2 separate regions of the Homo sapiens genome follow, and region 2 is linked to region 1. The links come from fine-mapping of genetic effects on gene expression. Tissue or cell type: whole blood. Region 1 holds a variant in brackets; the other region holds the start of a gene. All regions are shown on one strand. Distances are between the middles of the regions.

The links. PIP is the estimated chance that this variant, and not a neighbour inherited with it, causes the effect.
Region 2: TGM3 starts here. The variant in region 1 is fine-mapped to the expression of TGM3 in whole blood (TOPMed, PIP above 0.99).

What each region holds. Positions count from the first base shown.
Region 1 is chr20:2,331,566-2,339,565 of GRCh38, reverse strand. TGM3 (transglutaminase 3) reads right to left here. Exons shown (of 13, transcript NM_003245.4): 10 at 7,256-7,564; 11 at 4,293-4,450. Among named protein-coding and RNA genes, the nearest start is that of TGM3, 40 kb to the right of the region's middle. The variant G/A (reference allele first, on the strand shown) is at 4,283.
Region 2 is chr20:2,290,475-2,300,060 of GRCh38, reverse strand. It overlaps TGM3 (transglutaminase 3), which reads right to left and starts at 4,060. Exons shown (of 13, transcript NM_003245.4): 1 at 3,991-4,060. The coding sequence starts at 3,997. LOC105372503 (a long non-coding RNA gene) reads left to right here. Exons shown (of 3, transcript XR_937203.3): 2 at 2,771-2,869; 3 at 3,567-4,240. RefSeq lists enhancers at 2,290-2,822, 2,823-3,356.

The DNA.
Region 1 (8,000 bases):
GACTCCAGTTCAGACCCTGCTTCCCAGGACAGCCCAACCCCACTGTGGGCTCTGTGAGGGTCAGGACATTTTTCATGCTGAATTTATTTTTTGCAAGGACAGGGTCTTGCTGTGTTGCCCAGGCTGGCCTCGAACTCCTGGCCTCAAGTGATCTTCCTGCCTTGGCCTCCCAAAGCACTGGGATTACAGATGTAAGTCACTGTGCCCAGCCACTTGCTGGGTTTAATATTACTTTCCTTGGCTTTCCTGCTTATGGGTCCTGTTTCTTCCCTTAAAGCTTGAACCTCCGTCTCTGGGAGGCCCCACAGGTGTTGAAAAGGGCAGCCCCAGGCCCCACAGCTGCTCACACCCTGGCTCACACTGTAGCTCCCTTAACTCTTTTTCCAGGGGTTGGGTCCCCCCAGCTCAACCCAGGCTACTCTCCTCTGCTGACACCCCAGTCTACCAATGTCCTTCTAAACTTCTAGAGCCCAGAGGTTCCCTGTGCACCATTTATAGTCTGAGCGGAGCTCTAATACCACACGGTCCTTGCTCAGTGATCAGAACAGATGAAGGCTGGGTTTGGGGTCAGAAAAGCAATTTGGACTATTTATTCAGACCAAAAGATGAAAGCTGTTGTGTTTCTGCCAAGAAACAGCCGTAATTCATTCTGGGCAGACAAGTCATCTCTTTGCGCCTCAACTTCCTCATCTGGTAAAGAAGGACAATCATCTCTTCCCTCCCAGAAGGGGTCAAATGAGATCAAGGATGGGGAAGAAAGCATTTTGGACATAGAAATGGACATTTTATGGCTATTGGATTTCTTCTTCTTTTGAGGATGACCGGAGGTTGCTGGGTTTTGTTGTTGCTGTGTTTTGTTTTTCTTGTCACTAATCCTCAGAGCAACCATTTTACAGTGACAGAGCTGAGGTTCAGGCTGATTCAATAACCTGGAACATTCACACACAAGGAAACAGCAGAGCCCAGCTGGATCTAAAGCCTTTGCTGTTTCTGATAGGTCTGCAATACCTCCCAGTAATTTGTGAGTAATTGAAGCATTTTACACATCATGGTCTATATTTTCATTTCTTCCATGAAACTCATTTAAGTGTATGACATAATTTGAAGAGTGCAGCATAATTTTATGCTATTGGGTTATAAGAAAGCTATACAGATGTTGCCACATTTTTCATGGTGATATTTAATTTGAGATTTCCATGCTTTTTTTTCTTTTTTTAATGCCGCTTACCACTCTCTCCTATTGACCCAACTCTGTAAATGTACCCAGAGGAAAGGATAAAAGCCACTAAAAACCTGAGTTTGCTTGTCACAGATGATGGATCAATTGGGAGGACATCACCCTTTGGAAACAATGTTCAGATTGTTTTTGGCCTGGTTTTGTGGTCTAAGGTCCTCAGTGCTAATTGCCAGTCAGTACCAGGTTAGATAATGGGGTTTTACCCAAATTATTATCTTTTCATACAGATCACCTTCTCCAGTTTAAAAATCGGTGCCCTGCTCTGAGTGAGCTAGGCATTGATCCGTTCAATAGAGACAAGAATGTCTCGATTAGGTGAAGGCTTAGGTGGAGGAAAGAACTTGCCTCGAAGAAGGAAGATCAGGAGTCATTTAAAAAGATTAAATTTTTAAAAAGAGTCAGTGATGGCACATTTCTAGCCTTATATATTCTGATTTCCTTTCTAAAGATATTGTAGTATCTTAAAGATAAGTAGACTTGCCATGGAAATCTGGAAGATGTATAGCAAAAGTGTTGAATAAAAGATAATGCTGGAAGAAGGTTTGAGGACATTGGATAAGGGAACATAATGGGGAATACACTGGGGAAAAACACTAATTTTTTTTTTTTTTGACGGAGTCTCACTCTGTCAGCCAGGCTGGAGTGCAGTGGTGTGATCTCGGCTCACTGCAACCGCTGCCTCTCGGGTTCAAGCAATTCTCCTGCCTCAGCCTCCCAAGTAGCTGGGATTATAGGTGCCCGCCACCATGCCTGGCTAATTTTTTCTATTTTTAGTAGAGACGGGGTTTCACCATGTTGGCCAGGCTGGTCTTGAACTCCTGACCTCAGGTGCTCCACCTGCCTCGGCTTCCCAAAGTGCTGGGATTGCAAGAGTGAGCCACCGCGCCTGGCCAAAAACTAAGTTCTTTTAAACACTGATCACTTTAGTACAGAATGTTCTCATAACTGAACTGGCAGCCACCCAGTATCATTTTCTAGCCTCAGGAGTTGGAATGGGCACTCTGCTGTCCACCATGTCTAGAGAGATGGGGAGTGTTTCTCAGAAATGTCTTGTGAAGCAGGAGAGGCTGTCACACGCAGGGCACAAGCCTGGACTGACTTTCCTGTGCAGGGAAGAATGCAAGTCCAGAGCCAAGGGGATCTGTTCCAGTCATGCCCCGAGCAAGGGGCTATTTCTCTTTTACAAATAGTGGCTATCCACTAAGACATTGTGCTAAGGGAGACAGTGATGAACTCAGAACAGAGGTAATGCCTGCCCTCATGGAGTTTACGGTTGGGTAGGGATTCACAACCAAATAATTGCACAAAGAAGGATAATATTCCAGCTGGGACAAATGCCTTGAAGGAAAAGGACAGAATGTTCTGAGGGTGTATAATTGAGATGAATTTGGGAGCCTAATTTGGGAGCTCAGGAAAGGCTTCCCTGAGGAAATGACACTCTGCAAGGGAAGTAATTTATTGTCCCAGTGACAGAGTTGGAGCAACTGAGACTCAGATTAAGGGACCTGCTCAGTGTCACCACTGATCAATGGAGGGGTTTAGATACAATGCCAGATCCATTTGGTTACATGGCCCAAGGCCTGAACGACTGCCCTTCTCAGCCCCCAGACTGGCTGCCCAGTCACTGACTCTCTAGCCCCTAAGGTAGGGGACCAACTCCCCCATCCTGAAGCACAGTCCAAACTAACCAGGACAGTAAAAGGGTGCAATTGCAGGCCAGCTATGTGGGAGAACCAGGCCCGGCATCAGAGCCAGCATCCTAGATCCCCCTGCCCTTTCTGAGGTCAGGAACGCCTGCAGCCAGCTTACAGCTTAAGGAGGGGCGGGCCAGGGCAGCCATGATTATCTGGCTCTTCCTGGTTTCTGGGGCTTGGGAAACCTGTGGCATTGTGATTGTACAGGGAAAGGCAATTTCTATCTAGACAACTGGGGCAGACGGTGGGTACAGCAGATGAGAGAGGGCAGGGCCTGGCCCATGAGGCTCTTGATTGGGCCCCAAGGGAAAACCTCATGTTCTCTGTCCGTTTGTCTGCCTGTCCTTGTCCAGCCTTTTACCCTTCAGACCTATACTCCCTGGTTCCAGCACCCTTCACCCTGGGCTGTGGGGATCAGGCACAGGGGCTACAGGGTGAGGGACAGGCTTGGAGTCCGCACAGGTGCTCCTACCAGTGCTGAGGAAGACACAGAGTGGCACGAGGGGCCTCCCACAGACCTGCAAGCCCCACCTTCCTGGGCTCCTGAGAAGGAGCCTGGGAGTGAATGCTGCAAAGTAAAGGAAGCCCTATGAGCAGAGAAAGAGGGGTCTTTGTTCTCAGCCACTTTGAAGATGCTGTTGCTGGCTGGTGATGTACCAGGACGCCTTGGAGGGGCATGGGCTGGGAGTCCCAGGTTCTGAGGCCTAGCCTTGACTCTGGCGGTGGCCAGCTGTTCCCTTCTCTCTGGGCCTTGGTTTACTTGTGTGAAATGAGAGTACAGGAGCATGTGACTAGGCTCCTAAGAGTCCACAATTCTGTAACTCCAGGGTCTAGACAGGGGAGAGATGCTGTGGGTCAGGCCTATTTCTGATCTGTCCATGACAGAGGGCTGGGCTGTGGCCCTGGCACATCAGCTGGCTGTGTGTGAGACCTACACCTGTGCCTGTCTGTGATTCTCAAGCCTGGCATGGCCCAGAACACAGCAGATCTCAAGCCTGGCATGGCCCAGAACACAGCAAATGCTCAGTAGCTGAGTGAGAAGGGAATGAGCTGAAAAGAGTCCCCCAGGCCCCTCCTCAGCTGATGCCCCCAGTGGTTCTGAACTAGAATCTGAGAAGCAGCCAGGCAAATGCACGCGTTTATCTCACCAGACAGGGAGCAGGAACACGGGCCTGAGTGGGAGCTCTTGGCTATTTGGCAGAGGCTGGACCGAAGCTGGGCCCAGTTCTCTGCCCCTCCCAGCAAGAAAAAACTCTCCTTTGCCCTCTGGGAGAGCTGTGGCTCACAGGGACAGTGGGGCTCCTGGGAGCTGGGCTGGCTGGGGGCAGAACCCCTTCCCACAGGATGGGGA[G/A]CCCCATTACCTCCAGGGTCAAGGTGGGGTTGTCCAGGATGATGTCCCGCTCCACCACCACCTCAGACTCATCTGGGACCTTGCACACCGCTGTGATCCGGATCATGTTGTCTGACTTCAGGTACTTCTCATACTGAGCGTACGAGATCTTTATGGGATGTTCTGCCTCTGGAAGGAGAAGCCAGGGGATCCGAGTGAGGGGGAGTGGGGATGGCTTCTGAACCTTCCTCAGAACAGATGCCAAGCCAAGGCAGGGTGAGCTGGTGGGAGGATCTGCAGCCCCGGGCTTGACTGAGCCCTCCTTGGGCCAGGTCCTGTGGGAAGCGTCCCCCGGTCAGGGTGGGCTCCAGAGCAGGGGGCAAAGAGGCCCCAGGACTCTCTCTGGCTGGGCAGATTCCCAGGAGGATGGGCTCACAGGGGCTAAAGATACCGCTGCTTCCTCCCGACTCCGAAAAATGTTGGAGGGCAAGTGTCCTTTTTTTTTAAAATTTTTTAAATTATTTGTAGAGATGGGGTCTCTCTATGTTGTCCAGGCTGGTCTCAAACTCCTGGACTCAAGGGATCCTCCCGCCTTGGCCTCCCAAAGTGTTGGGATTACAGGCGTGAGCACTGCTCCCAGCCACAAGTGTCCTTCTGAGGGGCAGTGGAAGAATACAAATGCCACCTGATTGCCAACAACAGTAGCAATCATGACAGTAACACAATAATAGGTAGGAAGGGAAGCCAGGGTATTGGCTAAACAAACGCTTAGGATCCTCCCCGTCATCTAATAGCCTGGGGTTCTACTGCCACAGCATCCCCTTCATTCCTCTGGTCTGGTCTCTAGTTCTTCTAAATCATCCACACACCAGCCAGACAAAGCTTTGGAAAGCTGTTTTTCGTTTTGTTCTGTTTTGTTTTCTAAATCACTCTTCTTCTGTGTCACATGTGACTTCAAAAATCTTCCGTGGCTCCTCATTGCCTTAGATAAAGTTCAGACCCCTCAACCTGGCCCTGCATCACCTGTCCCTTAAAAGAACCTTCCACACTTCTTGTTCTGCAGACAAAACAGGCACCTTTTCGCCCCCATATTTTGACTCACATGGTTCCCCCAGATGGAAATGCCTCCCCTGGCTTCTCTCCATGCATCCGGCTCCTTCCCCACGCTTTAAGTCCTCTCTTCTGACCCTGTGGGCCGCGGGGCCCTTTCCCTACCCTGATGGGCTTAGGTGCTCCCTTCCCTCAGGCTGTCATGCTGGGTGGCCTGGGGATGCCCCAGCACCCACAGTATTACATACTCTTGTAGGTAAGACTGTGAGGAGGAAGCTGCCTCTGCTTTTAGCACTGAAGGAATTTGCCATCCCTGCCCCAAATGTGGAGAGGACAGGCCCTTGCATCAGCTGGTCCAACCCTCACCGTCAGTGACCTCCGAGGTTCAGAAAGGGAGGGAGACTTAACCAGGGTCATCTAGCAACTACTTGGCAGACGACCAGACTCTAAGACCACTACACCTGCCTTCTCTCTCTTTTCCATTCCATTCTGCAAAACGGTTTTTTTTTAACTATTTCCATCCTGTGAATTTTTTTTGATTTCCAAAATTAGCTCTTTTGGCCAGGCATGGTGGCTTATGCCTGTAATCCCAGCACTTTGGGAAGCCAAGGCGGGAAAATTGCTTGAGGCCAGGAGTTTGAGACTAGCCTGGGCAACATAGTGAGACCCTATCTCTACAAAAAACTTTAAAAGTTAGCTGGGCATAATGGCATGCCTGTAGTCCTAGTTACTTGGGACTACAGCTACTTGGGGGGCTGAGGCAGGAGGATTGCTTGAGCCCAGAGTTTGAGGCTGCAGTGAGCTATGATCACTTCAGCCTGGCAGACAGAGCAAGATCCTGTCTAAAAACAAAACAAATAAACAAAAACAAACAAACAAACAAAAAAAGCCCTTTCTTTGAGTTTCTAAGGTCAATAACAGCCAGGCAGTTGCTTCATATATTGAAAAGATTTCTGCTAAAATTCTGCCAGAAGACAGATTGCTAGGGGATGCTTCTTTCTGACAGGTGTGACACCTCTCAGTTTCTCTGGAGACAGAATTCTTTCAAGATGGGCAGTATAATTAATCAGTTTCTATTAGTTCCTTATGTGAAGCAAATAACCACCCTGCCCTGTTAATCCGGCTTGTAAGTCCAAACTTTTCATGACAGCTTGAAGGATTTTACCAATGTGGGCACACCTGCATTCTAATCCTTCCACAGCACAACCTTTATCTGCTCCACCTTGTTCCCTTCCCATCCCTGCTACCCAAGGGCAAGGAGTCACTGTTCCTCCCAAACGCTCAGACTTCTAAGAAAACCTGTCACTGTTGTCAGGATTCCAGAAGGTCCACCCACCCCGTGGCAGCTGTGGGAGGGCCATGGGCCAAGGTTTAGGGTCCCGTGGTCATTGCCACCCTCCTGAGGTCAAATTTGAAAAGCGATTTGTTGTGGGAGTGGGGGTGAGGTGGGTAAGAACAATACAACATAGAAAACAGGGGGTGGCTCTGGACTCAGTATCAGGAAACCTAGGACCAAGACTCAGCACTACCACTACTATCTATGATACTTTATCTCCGAAGCAAGTCACAAATCTCTCCCAGCCTCACTTTCTGCTTCTATAAGATGGACACTGAAAATCTGCCTTTTTTTAGACGGTCAAACTGTGTGAGGTGGTATATACTTGTAAGGGATATTGTGCCATAGCTATGAACTGCCAAAGCCTCCCTCCTTCCTCCCTTGGGGCGTAAAAGGATTTTGGTTGGCACCACCCTGACATTTGGTTGGCATCACTCTGTTCATAGAGACAGAAACTTCCAAAGCATTAATACATGGCTTAACCACAGGGGCCGCTGGCTGCTCCATTCGTAGCTGACTAACCTGGAGCCCAGCAGACACCCTGCAGCCCCAGAAGGCCATTGGCTACCTCGGATTCGTGGATCTCCTCCAACTGCGGGATGCGTTACCTTCCTCAGGGTCCAGGGACATTGTGGCAGAGTCCTTCCACACTTCATGTACAAGCGTGCCGTTGTAGATGATGGTCCAGGCTGTCATGTTCACTGTCACTGTCTTCGTATCCCTGCTCAGGTTTTTGAGCAGTAGGACCAGGTTGACTTCTTTGCCTACTGCCAGCATGCCAGCGACCTTCAGCTTCCCGATGATGCTGGGCTCCTGTTCCTCTGTTTCCAAACCCATTGAAGACGTCGCGGCAAATGGCGTGTTGGGTTTAAGTTTCCCCAAAGCCTTTTGGAACACTTGTCTTTCCTGGTCAGAGCCTGTGTGGTGGGAAAAGACAGAAACATGCCAGGGATGTGATGGCAACCTGGGCAAAGGACAGTACCCTGCCTGGACAGGCGGCCTAGGACTGGTGCTGGCTCCATTGCTGCCCTAGCAGGCATTCGACTTTCACAGGTCTCCAGCTCGCCTGTCTTAACCGGAGACTCACAGACCAGTTGGTCTCTGGCGCTTTTCTAATCAGCTCTAAATTTCCCAAAATCTGTAGAAAAGCTTTATCACACCTGCACACAATTACTATGTGGCTTGATCATTTGCTTGCGTTAATTAGGTTAGATTCCATTTTTTTCTGATAAAATGTCTTTTGTGAGACTTAAAAAACAGATAATTTCAAAATAAATCATAAGAACTGAGCTGAAAAAGATTAGAATACATTCATAAGCCAAAAAGCAAGGTGATGATTTAGAACTGACTTAA
Region 2 (9,586 bases), 40 kb after region 1:
ATCTCAGCTCACTGCAACCCCTGCCTCCTGGGTTCAAGCAGTTCTCTTGCCTCACTGTAACCTCAGCCTCCCAAGTAGCTGGGACTACAAGTGCGTGCCAGCATGTCCCACTAATTTTTGTATTTTTAGTAGATGAGATTTTGTCGTATTGGCCAGGCTGGTCTCGAACTCCTGACCTCAGATAATCTACCCGCCTTGACCTCCCAATGTGCTGGGATTACAGGCGTGAGCCATTGCACCCGGCCAGCATTTTCTTTAAAGCTTTCCTGGTGATTCTAATGTGCAGCAGGGACTGAGACCTCACTACCTTAGGCCCGTTTATCATCTACACTTATAAAAGCTCCTTCACATAAATTACCTGACCAGAGCCACCCGGCAGCTATAGGAAGGAGGCAGGGGAGGAGTCGCTGTCCTCTTTTTACAAATAAGGAAAATCAGGCTGAGGGAGGGGAAGGCTGACTCCTTCTGACTCCCATCTCTCAGCTCCTACCAAGATCCTAGGGCCTTGTGCCCTCCACTGCTAAGCGAGATTTCCTAACTTCAGCACACACCCCAGCCTGGCACGTGGGCCCTGGGGAGGAGAATGATTGCTCCATCTGCAGAGACAGCCCTGCGGGGTGGAGCCGCATGAAGTTACTTGAGGTGAACAAGGGGAGTGCTCAGGCATGAGGACTTTGGACTTGGGAATGGATGAAGCGGGAGTGGGGAGGACTTGTGCTGAGGCGCTTAATGGAGAGGGTCCCCTGGGAATCGCCCCTGATTAGAAAATGTAATTCCTCTCATAGGGTTTTTCTTAAGTCCCCCCAAGACAAGGAGAAAACAGGCTCATGAAAAAATTTCCAGGTAATCGTAAGCACCCATGAGGTGGATACTGCAATAACCCCATTTTGGAGATGAGGAAACTGAGACACACAAGTTAAGTGACCTGCCCAAGACCACTCTTCTCGTAAGGGGCAGAGTGGAGCCTTGATCCAGAGAGCACCTCTGAACCTGCACTCTTAACCCATCAGCTATCCTGTAAGGAATCCTACAGGAACAAACGCTGAAATACGGGCAGCTGTCATTCCCGGTGGAATGAAGCTGCTCATGGGCTGTCTCTAAGGAACAGGGAGTAGCCGCTGTCCCAGGTGGAAGAAGGCCATGGAGCCGGGCAGACAGGAGGCAGCTGGTCCTCATTTCAAACAATGAGCAGCTGGAGTCACAAGACTCTGAGCCCAGAGGGGCCATCTCCTTTTCAGAGAGAGAGAGAGTAGATATTGCCTTGGTCCCAGTGCCAGACACAAAAATATGAGGAGGGTCCAGGAAGCACCTAGAAGATTTACAGAAGAGAAGGAGGCCAGAACCCAAGAGCAATTCCTGACCGCTTCCATGGGAGGAGGGGCGACTGGTGTCCCAGCTCCAAGGAGAACGGTTTGGTGGTAGACCCAGACGCTGGGAATGGTACAGGTCCTTTGGGGGTGGAGGAAATGAGGCCTTGAGATGGGAAGTCCCTGAAGCCAAGGCCAGTGCTCTGCCTGGAAAAGTAGTTGGCAAGAAAGCTCACTGCCCCAGAGGGACAGAGCCATTAGTCCCCAAAACAGAGGTTCTGGTCATTTGCAGGCAGAAGCCTGTGGTTCAGGTGTGTACCCTGAGAACTCTGCCACTAACCCAGGGCTTCCAAGTGGCTTTGGGGATGGGGAATCTTGCCTCCCCTCCACACTGGGGCCCTCCTCTGTGCTCACAAACTGCTCTCCCACCCACTCTGGGGATGCCAGGCCACTTGGTGCGGATCACTGCCAGGCCTTCCTCCACTACCTTCATTTCCAGCCACAGCCCAGGCTGCCTTCTCCACCAAGGGGTGGAATAATGGAACCCCTTCTGATTGCAACAAGAACCTTAAATTAGGAGCTGGACACAGAGTCCTCTCAAAGCAGCACACCTGTCATCCCGATAGTCCCCTGGGTCACACCTGCTCACACTGACATTTATTTTCCTGTTCCCTCTGCCCTGCAAAACCTCTCCAGACCAAGTCCAACTCATTGTCTGTGACCATTTTTCAGAGTCTTCCCTATCCCAAATTCCAGACAAGACTAATCTCCTTCTCTTGTTGGTCCCCGTAGCACTTGTTTTGTATTTGTCATGCAGCTTAATAACAGTCTGCCTTGCATGCTGCTCACCTAAAAAACCGGTGGTACCAAAAAATATCAGACTAAAAGCTACCGAGGACAGAACCACATCTCATTCACCTCCATATTTCCCACTGCACCTGGCACAGCTCTTCTCCCTTAGGTGTTCAGTGAATAAATTCATTCATCCAAGAAACACTGATTGGGAACTTCCTGGCTGAGTGACTCGGAGCTGAGCTGGGAACTGCAAGTGGGACAAATTTAAGGGACTGAATGTATTCGCCTGTCTCTCCACCACCTTTTCAAAATTGATTTTCTCCCCACCAGCCTCATTCTGTTGTGACTTTAGAACATCTCTGGTTGTTAACAGAGACATTTAATCATGCCTCACAGCGGGCAGGCCATTCCTGAGAGTCCACGGGAGGTCCTGCACAGGGATGGGAGGTGCACATTCCTGGGGGCTGGGCACGTGCCTGTCCACTCCCTGGCTCTGGTTTCTTTTTGTGGAGAAAGAAAAGTCGGTACTGGAAGGAACCTCAAAACGCATTCATTTCAAAGCTTTCATCTTGAAAACTTGAGGCTCAGGGGTGGCAGAGAACACACAAGCAGTTGGTCACAAAGCTCAAATGAGAAGCCAGGTTCAGAATTGCTTTTTTATGTTCCAGATGTTATGTGCACTTATGTAGGAGCTCAGCTCTGGCAGCAGGACATGGTGGAAAGGGCACTGCTGAGACCTAGCTGGCTCTGCGATGGATTCACTGTGTGTAAGGTTCCACCCCTTCCTGGGCCTCAGCCACCTCCTGGAGGGAGGGAGATGGGCTAGATGACATCTGACCTCCCCTCTTGCTGCAGTGTGTAGGGTCCAGAGCTCCTCTTCTTAGCATCCCAGCCATGCTGTACATTACAGCAAGGAATGGGAGACAGGGGAGGGGGCCTAATGTGCAATCACCTGTCCCAGTTTTTGTGGCTTCTGAAGTAGCCAGCATTTGCCTGTTGCATTTGGCTCAGTGATGTCTTTGGCCAATCTTCCAGCAGCCCTAATCGCCATTCACAATATTTTACAAGTTTGACTCATATCTTGTTTGGATTTGGCGTCCCTGTCAACCTACTAGGCTGAGCACACAAGACAGATAATAATTAGCATGCTGCTTAGCAGGGGTGCTGATTAACAAAGGCCCATATCCTCGACAGTAAGCATAGAGTGGGGGAACCTGCACTTCCTGTTGTTCTTTGTAACCCCTGTTCCCTGGTGCTCTCCTGTGGACCAGGACATCTTGTGGCACACCTGCTCCTGCTACGGGGAGGCTTCAGCTCATCAAGTCACTTACACAGAGCCTGTCTGATGCTTCTGATGTGTAGCTTACTTAGGAGCATTCCTAATGCTCCTAAGTAAGTTGATTTGAAATAAACAATGGTTTCTTTCAAATCAACTTACATGTTACCACTCTCACTCCCTGGTAGTTCTGAGATGTGCTTCTTTGCTGACACTGCTGACAGCTGGATACAGCTACACTGAGAAACACGAGACCCGAGTCCTGTCTGCTTTGGCTTTACGGGTGGCGACGGATGTGTAAAAGAAACGCAAACACAAACAAGGCAAAGCTTGTCCTCTGCCTAAGGAGATGCGATGTCCAGCTGCACTGAACACCCTGCCCATTATTCAGAGCTACATTCCAATGATGTTCTACCCCAAGAATATGCTAGAGGGACCCAACCACCACTGAGAAAGAGCCGCCTCTGGCTAGCACCCTAAAATAGGAAGTCTGGCCTTCAGAGCCCCCAAGGCAGGCAGCTGTCCTGGCCGGACACTCTGGCTTGGCAGGCTGGCCCAGGGGAAGCACAGGCTTCTGGCAAGGACCTGATGGAGAAGATGCCATGCACTCACCAGCCATGTTTCGCCTTCCTCTGCCTCTTCTCAGGCTCCTCTGGGAATGGCACGGACAGTGCTGACAGACAGGCTGCCAAGGATTGCCTTACCATTTATAGAATCCTCTCCTACACACCCCAATTAGAATTCTAATGAAGTGGGCGAGGCACCAGGTCATTCCTGTAGTGCCTGTAAACGTTTCACTTACGACAGACTTGTCACCCAATGGACGTGCATCATGTTTGTACAAGACCAGCTTGGGGAGAAGGGGGCAGATAATAAAGAAACTCAAATAGTTCGCTTTTATAATTTTATAAAATGATGGACTATTTCCTGGATTGTAGGGTTTAGGAAATGATGACATGCTTTTCTTGCTGATCCTGGGAAGTTCTCTCTGAATCAAAGAAACGTCTCAGCAGAACCCAGAAGAAGAAAATTGTGAGGTCCTTTCTCATGATACACATGTATTAGCATCTTCCACTTGCACAGGGAAGTGAGACACATCACAGTTCATTTGTTTAGGGTTGTAGTGTGGCATAAACCATCATTTGATTTGGAATTAGAAGCCGTTGGTTCTGATGCTGGCCGAGCCCTGGGTGGTCTCCAACCCTTGAAGCCCGGAAGCCTTGCTTGTGGTTGGGGATAATCACTCCCACCCCTCTCAACTCACAAAGCTGTGGACACGATCACATGAGATGGTGCGCATGGGAAGTGTATGCATATCTACCAGGGCAGGTTAAACTGAGATCACACTTGGCGTTGAATGTCAGTTTCAGTCCAGATTTGGGGGAAAATTGTTGTTTTTAATGAGGCAGCAGGAACAGCCTCTAACCTTATGCTTCTGCCATGTCTTTCTCAGACTGCAGGTTCCGTCACTGACCCTCACTGGGCCCACCTTGACATCAGTTTAAAGAAAGGGTGTGGAGTGGGGAGAAGCTCTGACATTCTACGTGTTTTTGTTTGCTTGCTTGTTTCTAAGGGCGTATGTTTTTTCAAAGTTCCTATTATCGATATTTACAAATATCAAGGTTTACGATGGACAAAGGAGTGAGTATATATTTTTTAAAGTGAGGCTTCAAGGATTCACGAGAGAACAGAAATGCCCCAAGGCTTTCCCCAGCATCACAGTGTGGAAGGAAGATTGAGCACCATGATGACAAGGTTGGGTCTTTAGAGAGAAGTGAGAATGTTTGATCTCGAGAAAGAGAAGACGGAATAGGCAGGTGGCTTGGAAAATTGAAAAAGAGAAATCAGTGTCCTTTCTCCGTCCTTTAGGCCCCTACAGCCTTTTGTACATCTTAGAACCTCTATTACCGTATGTATCCACTGCACTGGAACTATCTGTTTATATATGTCCCCATCTCCAGACTGAGCTCCTTGAAGGTACAGGTTGCATATCATTCAAATCTTCTTCTCAGAATCTAGCACAGGGCTTGACACGTGGCTGGAACATGCACATTCTTGAATAAGTGAATCAATATCACTGTAAAGATGGGAATCATAACTACCGATTTAGTGCTTACTAATAATAACTAATTGATTTAGTGTTTACTGTGGGCAGGCACTGGCTAAACACTTTACATATATTAGCTTTTCTCATCTTCATAGCAACCCTATGCAAAGGGGCTATTATTATTTCCATCTTATGGGGGACAGAGAGATTAACCTGAGTCTCCAACCACGAGATTCATACCCATATGTAAATGGCTCCAGAGCCTGTGTTTGCTTAACCTTGGAGGTCAGCGCCTAAATGAGGCAGCCTTTCCCAGGCCTCTGGGGCTCTAAGACAGCTGGCTGTGCACCCATGCCAGGCAGAATGGGATGCACTGTTGGCTCTGGCAGATGACTAAGAAAAGAGCAGAGGGTAGAGAGGGACATGGAAAGAGCCTGGACCCAAGAGGAGACTCATGTGTGGTCTTGGCTCCTACCACGGGCACTAGCTGTGACTCTGGGCGAGGCCTCATGACGCCAAGTTCATCCTGCCAGAAAGCTGGAGGACAGCTCCATGAATGGCATGGGATGAATGGGTGTGAAAGTGCTCTGTATGCTTCTGTGTGTGGTCTAAAGGAAAGGAGGGGTTTTGCTTATTATTGTGGTTGTTGCTGTTGGCCTGGGAGCCAAGGAAAATCAGACCCCGGGCACTCCTTTCAATGACCTGACAAGGAAAGCTGCAGAGGTGACAGGGAGGTGGTGCTCCCCTTAAAAGGGAACCTGAAGACACACAGTCTTGGCTCTGCCAAGTCTCCTCACCTCTCGTAGGCTTTGTTTCCTCAACTGTAAAACTGAGTGGAATTGCTCTGAGAATCAAAGGAGACAGCAAGTGTAAAAGGTTCAGCACGGCGCTGGGCACAGCCCAGTGTAAAAAGTTAGTATTAATAATATTATATTATTAGCCTGGCCGGGTGCGGTGGCTCGCTTCTGTAATCCCAGCACTTTGGGAGGCCGAGGTGGGACCTTGAGGTCAGGAGTTTGAGACCAGCCTGGGGAACATGGTAAAACCCTGTCTGTACTAAAAATACAAAAATTAGCCAGGCATGATGGTGCGTGCCTATAATCCTAGCTACTCGGGAGTCTGAGGCACGAGAATCACTTGAATCCGGGAGGTGGAGGTTGCAGTGAGCCGAAATCGCACCACTGCACTCCAGCCTGGGTGGCAGAGTGAGACCTTGTCTCAAAAAAAAAAAAAAAATCATATTATTAGCCTGAAAGGCCCCGAGTGCCACAGGTTTTGCAAGGGGTCCCACGGGTTTGGACAGTGGTGTCCGACCACTGACCACCTGGTCTTCTCTAGGAGGGTCTGTAGCTGGTCTTGATCCCAGAGTAATGTAGTAAAAAGACCCCTGAGTTGGAGTCAAAAGACCTGGATTCAAAGCCAGGCTTTGGAACTTGTCCACTGTGTGATGTTGGCTGAATTCTTTTACTTCTTTGGCCCTCGGTATCCTCATCAGCATGATGCACACACCTTCCAGGGCTGTCATGAGGCTGAAAGCCATGGTGACATTGCGGGTATGATGCTCCTCTGTAGACAGGCTAGTGTTACACAGCCAGCTTCCCTTCTACCCTCCACAGCTCCTCCAGCCAAGCTGCCTGTAGTCTTTGCAACTGACCAGCAGTAGGGCCCCAGTAAGAGTCTGCCCTGAGTTACTTAATGTTGGGTACTGGAGGATTGCACCATGGCCGCAGCCACAGCCCCAGCCTGCAGGCAGACTGTAATTTGCAGCTGTGTCACAATTTCAGCTAAATGATTTTCAATTCATAGGTGGAGCCACCCAGCTACACACAGGATGAAATTCCTGCTTGGCCACACTCTGCGCCTCAGACCGCAGTGAAGACGAAGCATGCAGATATGGGCTTTTAAAAGAAGCCAATTGATCACTTGCCTTTTCTCTCCCTCTAATTAAGGGATTTAGGGTTGCTGAAGATTTCACAACATGTGTAGAGACAGAGAATCTTCTGAGAAATCATCCAGCCCTTTCCAGCACGACACATGTCTCTTGACAACTCCTAAGATGGGGGATTTTTTTTTTTTTTTGAGATGGGAGTTTCACTCTTCTTGACCAGGCTGGAGTGCAATGGCACAGTCTCAGCTCACTGCAACCTTCGCCTCCTGGGTTCAAGCGATTCTTCTGCCTCAGCCTCCCATCTAGCTGAGATTATATGCACCTGCCACCACGCCTGGCTAATTTTTGTATTTTTAGTAGAGATGGGGTTTCACCATGTTGGCCAGGCTGGTCTCAAACTCCTGACCTCAGGTGATCCACCCGCCTTGGCCTCCCAAAGTGCTGGGATTACAGATGTAAGCCACTGTGCCTGGATGGATTTTACACTTCTCAAAGCAGCCAATACTTGTACTTGAGAAGCTCTGGCTATAACATTAATTTCTAGGATGGTTCTGTTTAAGGCCTATCTTCCCCCCATTTCATATGAGCTCCAGGAGGGCAGGGATTTTGTCTGTACCAGTCACTGTTCCCTCCCAGTGTTTTGCAGGTGGGCTCTCACAAAACTCAGGTTTGGCCAGGTGCAGGGGCTCACCCCTGTCATCCCAACACTTTGGGAGGCTGAGGTGAGAGCATCATTTGAGGCCAGGAATTCGAGACTAGCCTGGGCACCATAGTAAGACCTCATCTTTACAAAAAACAAACACATAAATGAATAAAAAAACTTGGGTTAAAGTGCACTAAAAGGACCAGAAAAGTCTTCCTTATTTGAACTGAACATTTATTTCCCTAGAGCTTTCACCCACTGACCTTCACTGCTCCCCTAGACACTCACAGAGACCACATAAAACAAAGCTGTCTTTTCCTTGGTCCAACAATGATTGTGTTCTCCCCCAAGTCTGGCAAATACTCTTTCCCTCCCAAAAGTTTTCACTTTTCTAGGTCAAACGTTCAGTTTCTTCAGCCATTCCTGGTGAGTCAAGTTTTGGAAGCCACCATGTTGTCCTCAACTATCTGTTGCCCTGTGGATTGTGCCATGTCCTTCCTCTGGGAAGGGAGCTTCAGTGGCTCCTCATGGCCTAATAGAGCCCCAATTCCTTAGTTTGGGTGTTGAGACCTTTCAGAATATGTTCAATCTTAATTCCATTATTTTATATTACTTTTTTTTTTTTTTGAGACAGTGTCTCGCTCTGTCGCCCACGCTGGAGTGCAGTGGCGTGATCTTGGCTCACTGCAAGCTCCGCCTCCCAGGTTCAAGAGATTCTCCTGCCTCAGCCTCCCGATTAGCTGAGATTACAGGTGCCCACCACCATGCCCGGCTAATTTTTGTATTTTTAGTAGAGACAGGGTTTCACCATGTTGCTCAGGCTTGTCTCGAACTCCTGACCTCAGGTGATCCACCTGCCTCAGCCTCCCAAAGTGCTGGGATTACAGGCAGAAGCCATCACACCCAGCCATTTTCTACTACTCTTACATGAACTCCCCTGCTCAGTGATACATGTCTAATTCTTTCTCCTGGAGCCCAACATGATGCTCCCTCACTGTACACCTGTTTGTAAAGTGTTCCTGCCTGGGACAGCCACCCTATTCCTTATGTATGCAGGTCTCATTGTCACCAAGTCCCAAAGCAAAGCTCCATTCCTCTTGAGCATCCCAGTGTGTTGTTGTGGAAAGAGGAGTTGTAGCAAAACAAGCAAACCCAGGTTTAAGTCTCAGGGACACAGTCTAGCTGTATGAACCACCTCACTGGGCCAGTCACTCAACCTTTCTGAGCCTAAGTTTTCTCCTCTGAAAAATGGGCATGATGATACCTGTCCTGCCCACCCTGTAGAGTGTCGTGTGGAATCATGAGATGACACAGGTAAAAGCCCCTTGTAAAAGACAAAATGCATTGACTTCTTACCTCCGAGCCTTTCAAACATGCCTGTGCCACCTGTCAGATGCCTAACTCTATTAGTGCCATTCCTAGGAACACCCTCAGAGTACAAGGTGCTCCGGGAGGTGAATACACGTGTCCATGTGGTGGGCCACCATTCCTGAAGCCATGCTCTGTGCTGAGAGCTCCACATTGGTCAATGTGAAGCCGCCCTAGGGTATAGGTATTAGCATTCCATTTTCTACATAAGAAACCAGAGGCTTAGAGAGGCTAATAAACTTGTAACACAGCCTACAAGTGG